2 linked regions of the Homo sapiens genome follow. Changing the gene in region 2 together with the main gene of any one other region gives a genetic interaction. Each region holds a gene or a part of one and is shown on either strand. Other genes may lie near its edges.

Region 1 (10,135 bases), on a different chromosome or scaffold from region 2:
ACACAGAAAGTCAGATTAACAAAATTCTATAGGAGACAAACTTACCTTCAAAAGACAAAAGAAAACCACTACATTCTTGACCACCACAGGGTATAAGCCCTTAATTATTAAGAGCTACTGCACTGAGGCAATAACTCCTAAGAAATCTTAACATTTCGCCAGGCAAGGTGGCTCATCCTGTAATCCCAGCACTGGGAGAGAATGGCACACGTAATCCTAGCCTTTAGGAGGCCAAGGCGGGAGGATTGCTTGAGCCCAGGAGTTTAAGACCAGCCTGGGCAACAGTGAGATCCCATCTTTACAAAAAATTGAAAAATCATCCAGGCATGGTGGCCTGTGCCTGTAATCCCAGCTGCTTGGGAGGCTGAGGTGGGAGAATCACTTGAGCCCAGGAGGCTGAGGCTGCAGTGAGCCAAGATCGCACTACTGAACTCCAGCCTGGGTGACAGAGCAAGAGACTCTGTCTCAAAAAAAAAAAAAAAAAAGAAATCTTACCGTCTTTAGTTCCTATCACCATTACTGCAGATTTAGAAGCAATCTACCTGAATCAGAAAATAGAGCTCAAATAAGTTGTGTGGCTTGGTATAATCTGGGAAAATCAGTTTCAAAAGTTACCTGCCCTTGGGATAGAACTTTTTGTCAACACCAGTTTTCAAAAAGTACCCTAGTTATGAGGCCGTTGCTGGGTAAACTTTATCCCATTCCAGCTTCAACCAGAGGAACCTGTACATCCTAAAGTTTCACATAAGATTACACTTGAAGAATAGGTTTCTCCATTAAAAGACTTGAAAACTACTGGTCTTCAGGCTCCCTACCTGTTTAATCTGTCAAGACATTGCCAGCTTAAATTTCGGACAGTTACATAAGTGTCCCTGTTAACTTCAAATGGCCCTGACAGGAATGCTAAAACGTCAGACATTCAAATGGGCCAAGCTTTATCAGGATTATAAAACTTTCAAAGCTCAAAAACATGCCATCTCTATGGGAAACAGTATCTTGGATTTGATGTTACAAAAGGAACAAGAAAATGGTTTCTGAATGGCAGCTTTCAGTTTACAAGTAGTGGCAAAGTAAATGCTTGGATGTTATGAGGTAGTTGATCTAAATTGTGAGGCTTTCTTAAAGGCACTCCTTTGATCTCATGGAGTGAGAGACTAGAAATCTATTCAACGTATTAAAACTCCTCTCCCAGCAAAATAAAATAAACAAAACATCCTCCTCCTAATGGCTGAAGTTCCATCTAGCTGCTATGGCCATTTTATGGAGCATGGTGCCATCTTGTGGCCACTCTCAAACCACCCATTGTTAATCAAGTGCAATTACAGCATGTTAAGAGTGAAAAGGAAAGCTATTTGGAGCCATGGTCACTTGGGATATTTTCAAATGTTCTCAAAGAACATGACATTTTGGTTACTTTTAGAATTTTATTGACTTTTTTCTTCATAACTTTAAAACAAAAACAGCGCATGAAAACCAGTGTCTTATTCCAAAGTCTCAACTCAGCTGATTGCCAGGTGAACATCACCATCTTACTCCTCTGAATAACTAGACACAAATTACATAGCAAGTTCGAGTTTCTGCCCACCCAAGACACAGCCAGTAATCAGTCACAAACACAGACACAGCCAACTCCAGGGGCTCCAGCTTTCTGCCCATCTTCTCTCAGCAGTTCCTCCCATCTGCTAAGATGCGCCTTCCTGGTGGCTCTCTCTCAAGGTGGGTCAAGGCTGAACAAGACAGAAAAGCACAGTCTAGGTCCACCATCACCTCCCACTGGCCACCAGTTGGCCAGCCAGGAAATCATTTCTGTACATCTTTTGTCTCCCCCTTTTATCTCCCTCTCTCTTCTCCAAAACTTGTTGCTATCTATCACTTTCATGTAACAATGGACTTAGTGTCCATTAAACTGCCTGAGAAGTGGTTTGAGCCTGACATATTTTCCTGAGCTAAAAAAGGAAAAGTACCTCTGTGGCCTTCTTGCCATTAAGATCAAGTAAAAAAGGGACTAGCACTACTGAAAAGGGTCACGCTAGAAAAGCCTTAGAATCCTCTCTCCACCCCGTGAAGGTTTCTCTAGCTGTAGCTCTTAAGGGTACAAGACGGCAAATATTCTGGGGTGAAGGAGGTATAATGGGGAAACACATTTATTTTCCCCTTTTAAACTTCCCTGCTGCCCCAGTCTTTGCCTTCTTCTTAGTGGATCCCTTGGGTTCTGGCTCCTTGCGCTTAGCTGAAGAGAGTGAGCCGGTCACCTTGAAGAAATCATCCAGGCGGCCCTGGGTGCTGCCTTGGCGGCTCTTACTCAGCCTCTTGACCCCACTGCGGATTCGCTCCTCAGAGAACTGCTTTTCACCACACATGAACTTGATCAGCTCTTCTTCATTTGGCTCGCTCCACTTCAGCTCCACAGACTCTGGGTCCAGCACCTCAGGTTCCAAGAAGAGCTGGTGAGCCTCCTTGTGGAGCCAATTTTCTGGCACAGGGTACTTGTTGGGGTCAAGTCGCCGCACGATCTCCTCGATGCTCTTGTGCTTCTGGATGAGGTCCACAGCCCGCTTGGGCCCAATACCCCGGATACTCTCACAGTAGTCACTGCCTAGCAGGATGCACAGATCCACAAACTGTTCCTGGTTCAGGCCCAGCTCCTGCAGAATCCGGCTCAGGTGGAATTCCTGGATTGGCAGCTTTTTGGCTTCACTGGCAGTCAGGTGTCGCATTAGCACAGGGCTGCCGAAGGTGAGGCAGTCCATGTCCTCGGTAGCCGCAGCATAGACTTTGCCAGCCTTCACCAGGGCAGCACAGCTGGCCTCTGCCTCACTGGGTGCATCAAGATAAGGGATGCCCATGAGGCTCAGCAGATGTTTGCACTCATCATTGTGCTGCTTAGTGACCTTCACCAGCCGCTTAGTGAATTTTTCCACCTCCTGCTCGGCCCCAGCAGCCTGAGCCTGCTGCAGCTGCTTCTCTGCCTCAGCCCGCCGCTCACTGCGTTTGGCCAGCTCGCCTGACTTGAGCTGTGGCGGCTTGCCATCAAAGACATACACGGGCTTGATGCCGTTCTCCATCATGCGAATGGTGCGGTAGAACATGCCCATCAGGTGGCTGGTGGTCTCACCCTCCTCATTCTGCAGCACATCCCCACCCTGGCGAACAGCAATCAGGAACTGATAAATGCTCATAGAGGCATCAATGGCCACCTTACGGCCAAAGTAGCTCTTGATGTCATTCTCCCGGATGGCACTGGGGGCCACATCAGCAATTAGTTTGGCCAGGCCTTGAATTCCCATGGCAACACAGAGGAGGGATGACTAAAAAAGAAAGGCAAGTCAGAGACGGAGGAAAGGAGAAAGGTTATAACTGGTGTTATCTCACCAACTTCATGCCTTCAACTAAATTCCACACAACAAAAAGGACACCATGTCAGCACTGCTAAAGATAAAAAGATGAACAAGGTCCCCATTCTCAAAAAACTCAGTCTAGCAGGAGAATTTACTCAATAGTAAGGCTCAACGAGTACCAGAAATTGAACCACGTGCTTAGAGAAATAAGATACTGTTGATATTCTAAGGTAGCAGCATTATTTATTACACAAAAAAAACCTGCAACATAGGTCTCCATCAAGGACCACAGAAGGCCAGGATGCTTGGCCTGGCTTGAGGAGTCCAGGGACCATAATGGCAGACCTGAAAGACAGGCAAATACACCAGCTAAACAAACAGATCTGATTTGTTTTGAGTCTCTGGAGAACCCTGACTAATAAGGCAGCCTTGAAAAAGGATTGCAAACATATCTGAATGGAGGTGATGTGGCTTTCTCACAAGCTTCTCTAAACTCTCTTCATCATCGCCTCAGCACATAAGAGTTTCTACTTTTATTATAATGTTGCTAGAGTTTCAAGTCTTTCCCTTTGCGTTTTCTCGCCACCACTCAGTCTGAAATGTTAACTCCATGGCTCCTCCCCAGGTCCTGATTTAGGGGTCTGGCATGCTGTAGTCACTGGGCTCAAAAGAGTATTGCACTTCAGAGTTCAGTGTTTCCCAGATAGCAGTGTTTCCCAAATCACCCTCACGATTTTTGCTACTTCCAACTAAAACCCGTACTTTCATTCACTTAGAATTTTTTTTAAAAAACTAAACTGGAAAACTCATAAGCAATAATATTTGTGTTCTATTAGTTATATTTTAATATGTATTAAATGTATAACTATTAAAAAGGATTTTTAGGGGGTGCAATTTAAAATCATCTTGCCATCCTGGCCAACACGGTGAAACCCTGTCTCTACTAAAAATACAAAAAAAAAAAAAATTAGCTGGGTGTGGTGGTGTGCACCTGTAATCCCAGCTACTCGGGAGGCTGAGGCAGGAGAATCGCTTGAACCCAGGAGGCAGAGAATGCAGTGAGCCGAGATTGTGCCGCTGCACTCCAGCCTAGCAAGAGAGTGAGACTCCGTCTCAAAAAAATAAAAAACTCATCTTGTGCCCACTGTTGGTATGTGTCCAATACTCCAAGAAATATTCTACTGGGGCCAGGCACAGAGGCTCTGGGCAGTAATCCCAGCACTTTGGGAGGCCGTGGTGGGAGGATCACATGAGCCCAGGAGTTCCAGGCTACAGTGAGCTATGATTGTGCCACCACACTCCAGCCTGGGCAACAGAGCAAGACCCTGTCAAGAAAAGAAAAGAAGACAAAAGAAAAGAGAAAGAAGAAACGAAAGACTCCATCAGGCCTTTTCATTGTTCCCACTCTTTCTTCACAGGGTTCTTTCTAGAGCATCAATGACTGTTCAATTCTTCCTTCTAATTCAGTCCAAACACTTCAGCATGGCATCACGATCTTTCATGTTCTGGTTCCCAACCTAACCCTACATTCTGGGATCTCAACAGAAAGCTGGAATAAGGCCCGCCTTTTCCCACTTTTCCTTAGCTGTGCCCTCCTCTCGCCATCCTCTCACGCGTCCTTCCAGGTCCATCCCTGGATTATTAATCAATTAATAATTAATTGACAATGAATTATTCATTTGATTAATATGAATAATTCCCCTGTGAACTGCAGCGGCAAAAGCTCTGGCCTTGAATCTAGGCGCGGCATTTACCATCCGTGTGACATTACCAAGCCACTGAGGTTTATTTTCTCGTCTACAGAAGAAGAACGATTACCATGCCTGTCTCTCAGGGCTGCTGCCAGGGTTAACTGAGACAACAGACAGAAACCTCTAATGTCCCCTCTCCAGGCCTGTTCAACCCTTCGGCTCTTGCCTCAAGCCGGCCGCGCTGCTGGAGTGTGGACTGAGGACCAGACCATGTAGCCCTTGATCCCCTCACGGCGTCCCACAGACAGGTAGGCAGGAAAGGGGCCTAAACAACTCAAGTGTCAGAAATGTTTCTCGTCCAAGGTCTTAGGAAAAATACAACACGACCCCATAAGGTGGAACTTATTACCGCTTTTCTACAATGGAGGAAAGAGAGGCTCGGAGCTTACGCGACTGGCCCAAGGCTCACAGGGGGAAAAGTGGCGGGACCTCTTGACTGCGAATCCCGCGCACTCCAGACCCCGGCTCCCCACGGCCCCCAGCGCCAAGCGGACCCCGTCGCTCCCGGAGGCGCTTCCCATGGGGTCTCACCTGGCCTTTGGGACACGCGGCCTCGGCGGCTAAAGCTTGGTTCGGGGTTGCCCCGGGCAGGCGGTCCTAAGCTCGCTCTCCCTTCTCAGCTTAGCGGCGGGTGGCCTGACGTTCAGCCGCCTTCCAAAGCCCGCGCTCCCGTCACGTGACCTGCTCGCCACGCACAGCCTCTTGGGGCGCGTAGTGCAGGCTGCGTCCCCTCAGACGGCTGCTCTCATGGCAACCAGTCCCTCCAGGGAGAACAGAGTCTCTCAGCGACCCTGGCGTACCCTTCTCCACCGCTTGTCCCCACTCCACCCACACCAGGTCCCCGCAGGCCCCTGCTCCCTCTACACCCGAAATCGCAGGACTACAAGTCCCTCAATGCCACTTGCGCCGGAGGCACTTCCTTTTCCGGTTGTGCTAGGCGCCTGCTCCTGCCGACGTGTTCTTCCGGTGGCGGAGCGGCGGATTAGCCTTCGCGGGGCAAAATGGTGAGAGCGTTGAGGGGAGTTCCAGACGGAGATGCGAGGACCCCTCGGGGTCTGACCCACACCGCGCTTATCTCCTCAGACGCCGGAGATCCAGAGGGCTAGACGCTCCTGGAACCTCCGGCTTGGGCTGAAGGGTGGGGAAGGGGGAAGCCCCTTGCCATGAACTCCTTAGGTTTCTCAGCTCGCGATTTCTAAGGGCGAGAGGCGTGGGGCGAATTTTGAATACCTTCCAGTTTGTATATCTCTGTTATCGGTGGTGTGTTATCTTTATTTGGAAAGTTCTTCTGCCGAACCCGTGCCCATCCTACAATGCCCTGGGCAAATGTTTATTGGTGAAGCACTTCCAACTCTCAGGCACTTGGCCAGACTTTCCTAGGAGCGCCCACAGCCTCTGTACAGATCTCTGGCCACGTTCCATGGACTTCTTTGTTTTCGGCCACGCCTCCTAGTGACCACCGTCTGACGCGCATCTAGCTCTGGGATGATGTCTATTCATCTTTGTATTCTCAGTGCCAAACAGAGGGCCCGTAATTGGAAGCTCAATAAATGGCAGTGATTGTCTTTATCATTTTGGGGGAAGGGGGCCGTGATTGTTTACTGAATTGAATTCCAGTGTCTCAGAACAATGGGGGCAGTTTACTTCTCTAGAGTTGTTATGTTCTGGATTTTAGAAGCATTGGCTGACCGGTGACAATGAAGTTAACATTTGTACAGATCTTTACGTTTACAGCCCTCTTTCATAAAAGACATTATCTCATCATCTTCCCTACAGCCTTAGGAAGGAAGCAAATACCTGTTGAGCAAAATACTCCCTGCTAGGCACTAGATGCTTTGATTCATCATCTTTCTTATTTTTCAGTTCTGTGAAATAGATATTACAGTCGCTTTACTCAGACTCAGATTACTCAGAACCAGAACTTGAATGTCTTGACCATAGCTCACAAGATTCCATAATAGCATAGGTAGTGAGGAAAATACTGAATTAGAAATTGAGGGCCAGGCGCGGTGGTTCACTCCTGTAATCCCAGCACTTTGGGAGGCTGAGGCGAGCGGATCAGGAGGTCAGAAGTTCAAGACCAGCCTGGCCAGCAAGGTGAAACCCTGTCTCTCCTAAAAATACAAAAAATTAGCCGGGCATGGTGGTTCACGCCTGTAATCCCAGCTGCTCGGGAGGCTGAGGCAGGATAATCACTTGAACCCAGAAGGCGGAGCTTGCAGTGAGCCGAGTTGGCACCACTGCACTCCAGGCACTCCAGCCTGGGCGATAGAGCAAGACTGTCTGGAAAAAAAAAAAAATTGAGCCTGGGCGCGGCAACTCACACCTGTAATCTCAGTACTTTGGGAGGCCGAGGCAGGCAGATCACCTGAGGTCAGGAATTCAAGACCATCCTGGCCAGCATGGCAAAACCCCATCTCTACTAAAAATACAAAAATTAGATGTGGTGGTGCGCACCTGTAATCCTATAGTCCCAGCTACTCGAGAGGCTGAGGTATGAGAATCTCTAGAACCCGGGAGGCAGAGGTTGCAGTGAGCCGAGATCGTGCCACTGCCCTCCAGCCCGGGCGACAGAGTGAGACGCCGTCCAAAAAATGAGACTCCGTCAAAAAAAAAAGATATTGAGATCTGGGTACCACCAGTCAGTGACTTATAGCGGGGGTTCTCAGCTTGGTGTCTATAGACACTGGTCCACAAAGCTCCGGAAATTGTAGGCAAACTTTTTCTTGTATGTGGTTTTTCTCAGGCAGAGAGTTCGTACCTTTAGTCACGTTTTCATAGTGGTCAGATTATTGGCCTCAGAAAATGCTAATAAGGGCCATTGATCTGCAGCTACATTTCCGGGCTAAAATCAGCCTCTGTTTCACGGCAGCACCAGGCTCCTTGATAACCGCATGTTCTCTCCAGGCTGAAATCGTGGGATTCTTTGATAGCTCTGATCTCTTTCCCTCCTCTAGGAGCTCGAGGCCATGAGCAGATATACCAGCCCAGTGAACCCAGCTGTCTTCCCCCATCTGACCGTGGTGCTTTTGGCCATTGGCATGTTCTTCACCGCCTGGTTCTTCGTGTATCCTTTCACTGAGCAGCCAGAGGACCAGCATTAGTGATGTGGGAAGCTCAGGGAGAAACCACGCTAGGTACATGGACCCCGCCGGTTTTGTACATTGGATTGGGGCTGAGAGAAGGTAAGGAGGAGAGGAGGGCTAGTGATGCCCAGGGGCAGGTTATAGCCTTATTTCCCAAGTTCAGGTGAGCTCAGTTTGTTCTTTGGATTTCCAGGACAGTGAGCAGGGGACCTGGCTGGAGTGGAGGTGGGGAATAGGGGTGCTACAGTTGGAAAGGTGGTATAAGGAAGGGTGCACTCAGGTGTCAGGAGGTCTGAGGGCTAGTCCCAGCTCCGGCCCTCATGAGCTGTGTGACCTGGGGCAAGTGACCTAACTCCTCTGGGTCTCATTTTCTTCATGGCAGTGGAGCACCAGAGTCCAAGGCATCTCTTAGGCCCCTCTGCCTGGCTGCTCTGAGCCAGATAGGCCTCCCAGAAGGCATTGAGCCAATGCTTTTCTCCTCAGATTGCCGTGGGCTGGGCTCTCTGCACTCCACAGTCCACCCCTTCGCTTTGCCTTAACTGCTGTGCCCAGTTACGAGGTCACCTCTACCAAGTACACTCGTGATATCTATAAAGAGCTCCTCATCTCCTTAGTGGCCTCACTCTTCATGGGCTTTGGAGTCCTCTTCCTGCTGCTCTGGGTTGGCATCTACGTGTGAGCACCCAAGGGTAAGAGCTGCAATGGGATGGATGCGTGAGCCTCCAAGGCACAGCCCAGGGAAGCCTCCCCAGAGTCAGGTCAGCAGGGTCCTTAAAGCTCTTACCAGCATGACCCCTTGGTTGATGGAGACAGACTCAGTGGAATGGGTAGGGACACTAGACATTTGTGCCTCTTTCCCTGCCCCTCATACGGATTTGAGCCAAATGTGACTCTCAGTTCTGAGCTCACATGGCCCAAGGCCTCGATCTGCCTTTGGGATGTACCACCTAGAAGTGTGGACGCAGGCATCCCATGGCTGTACATTTACATTCTTAGAAGTCAGACCCCAGTGACTTGGAGAGGCTGCTGGGAAGTCAGCTGGCTGAAAGGGGGTCAAGATCCAGGGCTTAAAACTTGCTGCAGACAATCCACCAAACAGGCCACTAGGAATCAGCTCTGGTGGCTCATCCTCAGAGGTGTGTGCTCAATAGCCCTTGCCCCAGGAGCACAGGGGTGCAGGGAGAGAAGGAGGAAAGAAGGGCCATTGGTCTTATTTTGATACCCCTCTCCTCTTTTAGGTAACAACCAGATGGCTTCACTGAAACCTGCTTTTGTAAATTACTTTTTTTTACTGTTGCTGGAAGTGTCCCACCTGCTGCTCATAATAAATGCAGATGTATAGCAGTCCTGTCTGGGGCCCATTCTGCAGGGGTGGTGGGTGCTGGGACCTACATTGCTTCCCCAATCTCTTCCCTTTCCCATTTCTCATCTGCCTTTCACAGTTCCTGCTGCTGATCTACTTAAGGGGGATGAGATTTGTGTAGCACCGGTGTTTTGTCATTGGAATTTAAGGCTTACCTGTGGATAGGGTCTGGGCCTACCCTTTTCTATTGTTTCTAGGACAAACTTCTCTGGGAACCCACATCGGTCCATTCTGCCCTAGGCCAGTCCCTGCCATAAACATAGCCACCATTCTCTGTGCTGGGGCATCCTCACCAGGCTCAGCTTCTCCCCCTAAGAAGGCTTTTCTCCTCAGTGGCTACTTTTAATGCAGGTGGGCAGCAGCGGGTGCGCAGGAGGGGAAGGTGTGGCCATGGGAGAGGCTGATGAGTCCACTCCTAGCCCCAATATGAAGCTAAGAGGATAAGGGGTATGAAGCATCCATTTGGCCCTCTGGTTCAGGCGCTCAGAGATTCCAGGCTTCTCAGGAAGAACTTTGAATTCCAATTGGCCCTAGCCTTATAGGTGACTCCTCTCCCACCAGACCAATCCCAAGAAGAGACAAGGAGGCAAGCTCAGA
Region 2 (8,502 bases):
AAATGACATTTGCGTAAGGATCTGAGTGGAAACTGATACAGCCTGTCGGAGAGCTACTGAGTAGTATTTTATCACAGCTGCATACATACCCTTTCACCCAACAGTTCCACTCCTGGGAGTCTAGTCAACAAATGGACAAGTTGCACAACCAAGCTATGGTCAAATATGTGTGTTGTAGGATTTATGAAACTGGTACCAATTTAATATTCAAATGTGATTAAGTCATGGCAATCTATTTACTGGATACTTTGTGGTTACCAAAGAGCTATGTGCTGCCACAGGGAGTCCTTTCAATAGTGATTGAAAAAGGCAGAACACTACTAGACAGAACTACCTGTTTTATGCATGTATTGGCATACACTGAAAAAGCTTAGTCACTTAAAATGAGGTTGTACAGATTGTAGATTTTGTTTTTAAACGCCTGTATGGTTTAAAAAATGTTTTGGGAAATAGACATGAGCAGGGCAGAGAACTACAACCTACAGGCCAAACCCCACCCCACTGCCTGTTTGTACGGCCAACAAGTTTAAAATTTTTTTAATGTTTTAGGTTTTTTTTTTTTTAAAAAAAATACTATGCCCATTTGTTTACAAATCGTCTGTGGGTGCTTTCTCACTACAATGGCAGAATTCAGTAGTTGAGACAGACCTATGGTCCACAAAGGCCGAAATATTTACTGTTTTAGGAGAAAAAAACAACATGAATTGTAATAACTTGGACTTACTTGGTTGCTCAGTCCTGATGTGTCCTGTTAAAACCTAAGAGAAACAGCACCAAGTTCAATCTAGTGCAATCAGCCTATCACATCTAAGCTGCTTTTGCCAGATCTGATATCTACTCCCGACCTTAAGCCAGGAGACTTTGTAAACTTACTAGGTTATAATAAAACTTAAGAACTATCGATATTTACTAATCTACATCATGGAACTATTTCAAAAGCAGTCATATGGTAAGATGGATCAGGAGTCTTTAAAAATAAAACTGAGAAAGAAAAATCATGTGATCAATTCAGTAGTAGAGACAGAGGTTGGTATCAAGTCTATGTTCATACACTTACCAGTGCCACCCAGCAGGGCCATACAAGACACATGAAATGAGATCAGCTCAAGGGTGACAAGATGAAACTGGGAGAGGGCCGGGGAGACCCGAACTCTTAATATTGGATTCCACACAAGAGGAAAAATTTTAGTCCAGCTCCCAGCATGGCAGCTAATGGCAAGTTAGTACCATAAAGCCAACTCTTGGAATATACCTGACTTCCACGATAAAATGGAGATGAGTGCAGGGGTGAGTGTATAGTTAAGAAAACAAACAATATATTACTAGTCCAGGTGGTAGATGACAGATTTTTATTATTTACACTTCTCTCAAATTATTACATTCAGCATGTTTTGCTTTTTATGTTATTTAAAGTATAAACCCTCATATAATTCCCTAAGATGGGTGGCATGCCAAGTAGCTAAATGAAATATCATCCCAGCCCAAAAGTACTTATTCGAATGAAATATTACATTTTTCTTAAATAAAGCAATAAATTAGGTACCCTATTATCATGGTATTTTCTTTTTTGGCCAGCTTTTCTAGATAAGGTTGTATTGCTACTGCAACTAACAAAAAAGATGTGGCAGGGCTGGGCACGGTGGCTCACGCCTGTAATCCCAGCACTTTGGGAGGCCGAGGCGGGCAGATCACGAGGTCAGGAGATGGAGACCATCCTGGCCCAACATGGTGAAACCCCGTCTCTACTAAAAATACAAAAAATTAGCCAGGTGTGGTGGCAGGTGTCTGTAGTCCCAGCTCCTCAGGAGGCTGAGGCAGGAGAATCGCTTGAACGCGGGAGGCAGAACCTGCAGTGAGCCAAGATCATGCCACAGCACTCCAGCCTAAACTACAGAGCTAGAAAGTGGCTAGAGCAGCCAAAAAAAAAAAAAAAAAAAAAAAAAAAAAAGGTTCCTGAACCATTCAACAGAAAAATGAGGCCTATTCCTATCATTTCCTCGATCCAATTTAGTTCCACTTAGGTCACTGTGTTTATAATGTCTTTTAGGACAGATTTCCTTCCCCATTCTCCATCAAACAACCATAGCACCTGTGACTTTTATCTGTTGGTTTGTATTTAATCTTATTTTTAAGTGCTTCTTTGAAATTGTTTTACAAGTACATTCTTGGTCTAGAGTAAGGTTCTATATAGTTGGCCCTCCATATCCATGGGTTCCACTTCCGTGGATTCAAACAACCAGACAAAATATTCCAAAAAACATTGTGTCTGTAGTCAACATGTATATTTTTGTCATTATTCCTTAAACAATAGTGTAACTATTTACATAGCACTTACATTATAATAGGTATTATAAGTAATCTAAATATTAACATAAGCGGGAGGATTTGTGTAGATTGTATGCATATACAACATCATTTTATTCCAGAGACTTGAGCATCTGCGAATTTGGATATCCAAAGGAAGTCCTAGAACCAGTTCCCGACAAATACCAAGAGATGACTTTACTTTAGACCTAAGATCTTGCTAGACAGCCTTTGAGAGGATGAAGGATAACTAGAGCAGAAGCAAATCGCAGCGAAGTAGACTACAACAATCAAGTCAAAAAACATAAAGCTCCTATCAACACCTCAAGATTTTAGAAAAGCCTCTTAACGGGCAATTTTCTTTTAAATAAAGACTGGGTCCCACTATGTTAGCCAGGCTGGTCACAAACTCCTGGACTCAAGTGATCCTCCTGCCTTGGCCTCCTAAAGTGCTGGGATTACAGGCATGAGCCACTGTGCCCGGCCTGGGCAGTCGATTTTCAGGAAGCCACTTAATGTTCAGATTCTTTTCTTCTCTCCCAGGACTTTGCAGATGCTGCTGTTCCCTCTGCCTGGAGATGTTCATCTGGCCTGAATCCAAAAGTCTGTCCAAGTTACTTCTCTTTTCCATGACAGAGTTACAACTATTTGTCTGTCCCCCTTCCCCATTAGAGTATATGGTCCCCAAAGGAAAGCCCCATGCCATTCACTCACCACCTAATCATCCCCAACAACTAGTGGGCAAACATGAAACACTTTTGTTGAATAATGTGTTTCCTTTAGCCCAGGGATTACAAAGTCAAAGGCTTACAAGGGGGAAGGACTAGCAGGTGTGCTCGGAGGGGACTCTAGCCAACTGGAGAGTAACTGGTGAGAAGACAATGACATGCTCTTAGGGTGTCTGCTACTCAGATCCTCTCAGTTAAGTCCCGTGCACAAAGGTGGGTCAGGTCTACTGTTGCCAGATCTTCAGATCATTCAAAAGTTACCCGAATTCTGGATTTTCATGCAAATCTCCCAATTTTTAAAAATGTTGGCATCAAATTCAGAATGTTTTAACCAGCCACACTGTGTGGGCCAGGGAAAACAGGCCCAAAGGCCAGGTGAAGCTGCAGTTTTCAACTGCTGCCTTGGCCTCTCCCAGAGCCCCTTAAGTCCTAAGAAGGCTCAGTCAACACACTGGCACTCGTTTCATCCCACTGGTTGAGAAAGCAAGTCTTAGCAAAGTAATGGGGGAGTCTTACCAAAACTGCAAAGGAAAAAAATATGATACCATGAAATTAGAAATTCACTGCATTTGAAATGAAAATGACTTATTTCTGTACTTCTATAACTCACAAATTTAGCAGACATCATTTAGACATTTTTGTAGTGCAACAGATTTAAATCTGGAATTTCATGGTTTGTAAATCACTATGTGATACTAGCTATAACCATGAGCAATATTACGGGCAGTAAATGTTGATTTCTATTTCGTTTCTTGAAGTTTTGTGTGGTTCATTTTTAAAGTGAGATTCAATTTCCTTAGCTATAGTCAAATGTACCCTTTAAACAGCCCAAGAATTGTTATAAATGACAGCTGCTATCAGTTTTCAAATTTTACAATATTAGGGTTGTTAACTATTTCATTCTGAATTAAGCTAACATTTGTTACCAAGCAATGCATTTATTTGGAAGGATACCAGTTACCAGTCATCAAAAGCTTTTGTATGTTGAAAATGTAATTTTAATAGTTAATTCTTCATCTTACATAGGAGCACAATAAAATACACCACAATCTGAAGAAACTCCAGAATTACGAGAATAAGAGTGAAGAAAATTCAAATGGGCTACAATATCCATTACCTTAAACTGCAAGAGACAAGGTTGCAACCCGAAGGTTAACATTTATGTATTTATGACTGGCTACATTTATGACTTAAAAATAACAAGAATCAGGAATTAGATATGGAGAGAGGTGGGAAAGAACAGTTTTGTGAGGGGAGGAATTCGTCAATAAAGAAGAAAAATTACTGAATTCCAAATTAAAGAATAAAACGAGCTCCCACAGCAAATACTGGAGGGATGAAAGCAAGAATCATTAACTGAGGACTTGATACTCTCAAAGGGATAAACCTTTCTGATGACACACAAGCTAGATAGTTGAGATCTGCTCATCAGGTTTATAAGGAAGACTCACAAATGCCTCAGCAAATCCCAAATGATCAGATCAGTGTTTCTTAACACACATGAAAGGTTACAGATGAAATTTTCAGATAAGAACCAAGAAAAATGTCATAACCCAAATTTTAGGCAAAAATGTGGCACAACTGTGAAAGTCCTACATGTCAGTCACAACTGCTATCTTTGCTGTGACTTTCCTGTACAGTAATTTTTAAACATTGTGGCAAGACACCAATGATCATCTAATCAGACAACACAAACACATTTATTTCAAATTCCTAGAAGGTTAAAAAAAGGTCAGATACTGATGCTTTATGCATGCTCAGGGCCAGTTTATAAATACTCCATTCAGTACTATCTTAACACAAATCTGCATCAGTGAAAAGAAACTGGCAAAATCCACCTCTTGCCATTCAATTTGTCAGATGGTGAAGACCAAGAAAGAATGTTCCATCAGTTTCAATTTTAAAATACGATTGTCAAATTGGGAAAATGAAATAAACACAGTAAAATAAACTGTACAAAGGCAAAGTAGAATAACAAAAAATATTTTACTAAAACATAAGATTTACAGAAGTTTCCAGACAAGCCATACAAAATGGTCACAAGCTTTTTTTGAAGGGGGGAATCTACACTTGACAGCAATGTTATTAGTGAGGGCTGTGATGTTTGTTTAATGTTCCCATTTTGGTTCCAACAATCAAGCTTGTCCATCTACAGCGTCTAAATAAAGTTAGACTTGGCTAGAGCATATTCTAAAGACCTGGTTAGCTGCTTTTAACCAATGCAATTAGATCACCAAAAAAGGGGGAAAGGAGCCCATAAAATTAAACTACCTCCCCCCTCAAAAATAAAATAAAATAAAATAAAATAAAAACACCCACACCCCTGCAGCTAACCTGACAACTACCTTCATTCACAGTGCTTTATACTTAAACCAGGATGGGGGAAATGAATAAAAGCAGGGAGGGGCCACTGCTTTTAAACGTTTCACAACAATCCAGATGATACTTCTAGCCTCTGCTCATGCTTTATGACAGTGAATCAGGACAAGACATAGATTTGCTAATGTGCATTTAATCACCAAAGGACTGAAGATGTCTGGGCTTTTTTATTCTGTAATGTTTCTAAGACTGTGTCCATTAAATGCAAACAAAGAGGAGGAAGTCTTGGCAGAACAGGAGAAGTGATGCACACTTGATGATCGTATCAATTTAAATATTATTCATGGCATATAGCCTAGTCCATGCTCTAGCTGTAGACAGAAACAAACATACGATTATTATTTTACTTAGTTCAATATGTTACTTTCCAAACTATAAATGGCAAACAACCACTATTAATTATGGAAATGTCATGCTGTAATCTGTTAAATTCACGCCTTTTTCTATAAATTGGATCAGGGCTGAAAGATTTTGTAAATGTCCAATTACCAAAACACTACAATAAAATTAAGAAGTTCTAGAAAATTCAAGAGGATGAATCAAGTTGTCCATTTCTAGATACACAATTCTCCCCACTAATTTTCTTAAAATCTGTAGCAGAAGCTTCTTGACTCCAAATTCCGTAGCCATAAACAGCTGAATACTTTAATCAAATGGGTTACAAAAACAGTTCAAGTTTTCCAGTATTCTTTACATATAACTAGATAAATGGTATGCACTCAGTATTTGTTAAACCAGGTGTAGTTACAAGAGACTCCAAGATCTTTCAATTACAGGTTGTCTTTATATTTGGGGGGTCCCATAGCAAGCCATTTTGTTAAGACGTATTTACATACTATAAGCAGGATCTCACTTATTATACTTTTTTCTATTTCTTTTCCTTGCCAAGAGCTTTAGAAAAGTTTAAGTGGTAATACAAATTTGTAAAAGTGGAAGTGGTGTGAAGGAGAATGAATATTAGATACCTGTTTCTATGGCTTGGGCTTCGTTGGTCTTCCACTGCTCCGCTACATCATTTGCTAATGGATCATCTGGATTGGGAGCACTTAACAAGGCCTGGATCGATAGCAGAACTGTGCGGATCTGCAGTGCTGGGGACCACTTATCTATGAAGGCAACAGGCCCAGTATGATAAAGCATGAAAAAAACAGGCCCAGAACTGCTTCACTTCCCTCCCACAGACCTCTCTGATCTTTGTATAATGTTTACATTCTAAACATGGAATGCTTAAGAGAAAAAGGAGAAAGCTTAATAATAGCATATGCTGATAAAGATAACACTTACCTTTCAAAATATCTAAACATATTCTTCCCAACTTGTCTACATTAGGATGATAAATTTTGGTCATGAAACGTACTTTAGGGGCTGCCATTGGGTATTCTTCTGGAAGGAATAGTTCAAGTTTAAAAGTCCCTCCCTCAAAGGGGGAATCCTGAGGGCCAGCAATGACCACATGAAAATAACGGGCGTTGCTCTCATCTGGTTCGGCTTTGATGCCAGGAACTGGTTCTGCCAGCAAACGCTGGGTTTCCTATGACAGAAAAACAAACACATTTGTGAAACAAATGTCATTTTGCTAGACACCAAAAGTAAAATTAGAAAGTTCATCTCTTAGAACTACGCATAATAGAACAGCTCCAATCTCCCAACAGATTTAGCTTATAAAATGCAAAATTCAAAAAAATACCATTTAAATAATTACAACCAGCTGAATGAAACTGCAAGCGAATACTAATGATGTTATCATACATTTTGGCTACAAATGTCTACAAATATGTTAATAAAATTAGCTTAATAAAACTGATTTTTTACTCAAGTAAAATAAAGTAACATTAGGATTACATAAGTAAGGCAACTTGCTCTAAACTCAACCAAAACCAAGCTATTTAAAAAGTAAAATTAGCTTTTTTGGTGGTTTTTTTTGGCTTGTTTGTTTGTTTTTGAGACAAGATCTCACTTTGTCACTCACGCTGGAGTGCAGTGGCAAGATCTTGGCTCACTGCAGCCTCGACCTCCCTGGGCCCAGGTGATCCTCCCAACTCGGCCTCCTGAGTAGCTGGGATTACAGGTGTGCGCCACCACACCTAGCTAATTTTTGTATTTTTAGTAGAGACGGTATCACCCTGTTGGCCAGGCTGGTCTTGAACTCCTGGCCTCAAGTGATTTGCTCGCCTTGGCTTCCCAAAGTGCTGAGATTACAGGTATGGGCCAACACACTCGGCCAAAAATTAGTTTTTAAACCCACTGAAAACCTCCCCTCTGAAAAATGTAACGGACTAAAGAAAGGAGATAAGAAGAGGCCCAGGTACCTGAACAGGACTAAAGAAATATATTTAACAATGCTGATTACTCTAAAATTGACAATTAACTTCAGAGGAACCCTTAATACTCCCAACAATCATACCATTAGTTCTCTTTTTCATCATTCTCCCTCTCCCCTAAATAATTGTATTATTATTATTTCTCTTCTCTCTTCAAACCTCCAGCATCTCCATCCCCATCCTCACTTGTGGCTGATGTCCTGCTTCCTATTTCATGACAAGTTAGATACTTCCATCAGTTCCCACTGTAGCATTTGGACATTTCCCTGCATCTGCACCCATACACTCTGGTTTTTCTCCTGTATAGATGAAATGTCACGTACTCTTGGCTAGGGCCAATCGGTCTTGAGCACTAGATCTTACTGATCTCTGAAATGTTTGTTCTTCGGTACCATAAAGAAATAGCACTTGAACATAAATTTAATTTATTTAGTAAAGCCATTTTTACTTCCTGCAGAAAGGGTACACTCGCCAGGAGTTTTGCCACAAGAGTATACTGAACAAAGGAGACAGGGTCATTTATAACCTGACGCGTCCACCCTACTGCTGTGTCCGGTTTCCACTGGCTGGAACGGGATCTCACATTCTGTATTTGTCCTGACTGGCTAGCAACTTAGAACTTTTTAAAAGAGGTAAAGGTAGAGGGGAACAAAGGAAGGAGGAAGTAACTTGTGGAATGCTGAGAAAGGTAAAAACACTTTTAAATAAGGAAGAGGAACAGGCTATGACCTAATGCTTGCTTGGACCAGTATAAGCATGCCAGGGCAAAT

Evidence for each region.
Region 1: changes in UBE2N (region 2) and FEN1 are lethal when combined (synthetic lethality), as found in Homo sapiens cells (one study listed by BioGRID).

What each region holds. Positions count from the first base shown.
Region 1 is NC_000011.10:61,788,514-61,798,648, reverse strand, and holds FEN1 (flap endonuclease 1), read right to left. Parts: upstream 5,739-10,135; 5' UTR 5,621-5,738; intron 3,309-5,620; 5' UTR 3,288-3,308; coding exon 2,145-3,287; 3' UTR 1,411-2,144; downstream 1-1,410. Other genes in the region: dolichyl-diphosphooligosaccharide--protein glycosyltransferase subunit TMEM258, read left to right, coding at 6,091-6,093, 8,047-8,156, 8,728-8,854. UniProt on the Homo sapiens protein: Structure-specific nuclease with 5'-flap endonuclease and 5'-3' exonuclease activities involved in DNA replication and repair.
Region 2 is NC_000012.12:93,404,358-93,412,859, forward strand, and holds the end of UBE2N (ubiquitin-conjugating enzyme E2 N), read right to left. Parts: intron 6,943-8,502; coding exon 6,696-6,942; intron 6,518-6,695; coding exon 6,377-6,517; intron 5,723-6,376; coding exon 5,682-5,722; 3' UTR 1,327-5,681; downstream 1-1,326. UniProt on the Homo sapiens protein: The UBE2V1-UBE2N and UBE2V2-UBE2N heterodimers catalyze the synthesis of non-canonical 'Lys-63'-linked polyubiquitin chains. This type of polyubiquitination does not lead to protein degradation by the proteasome.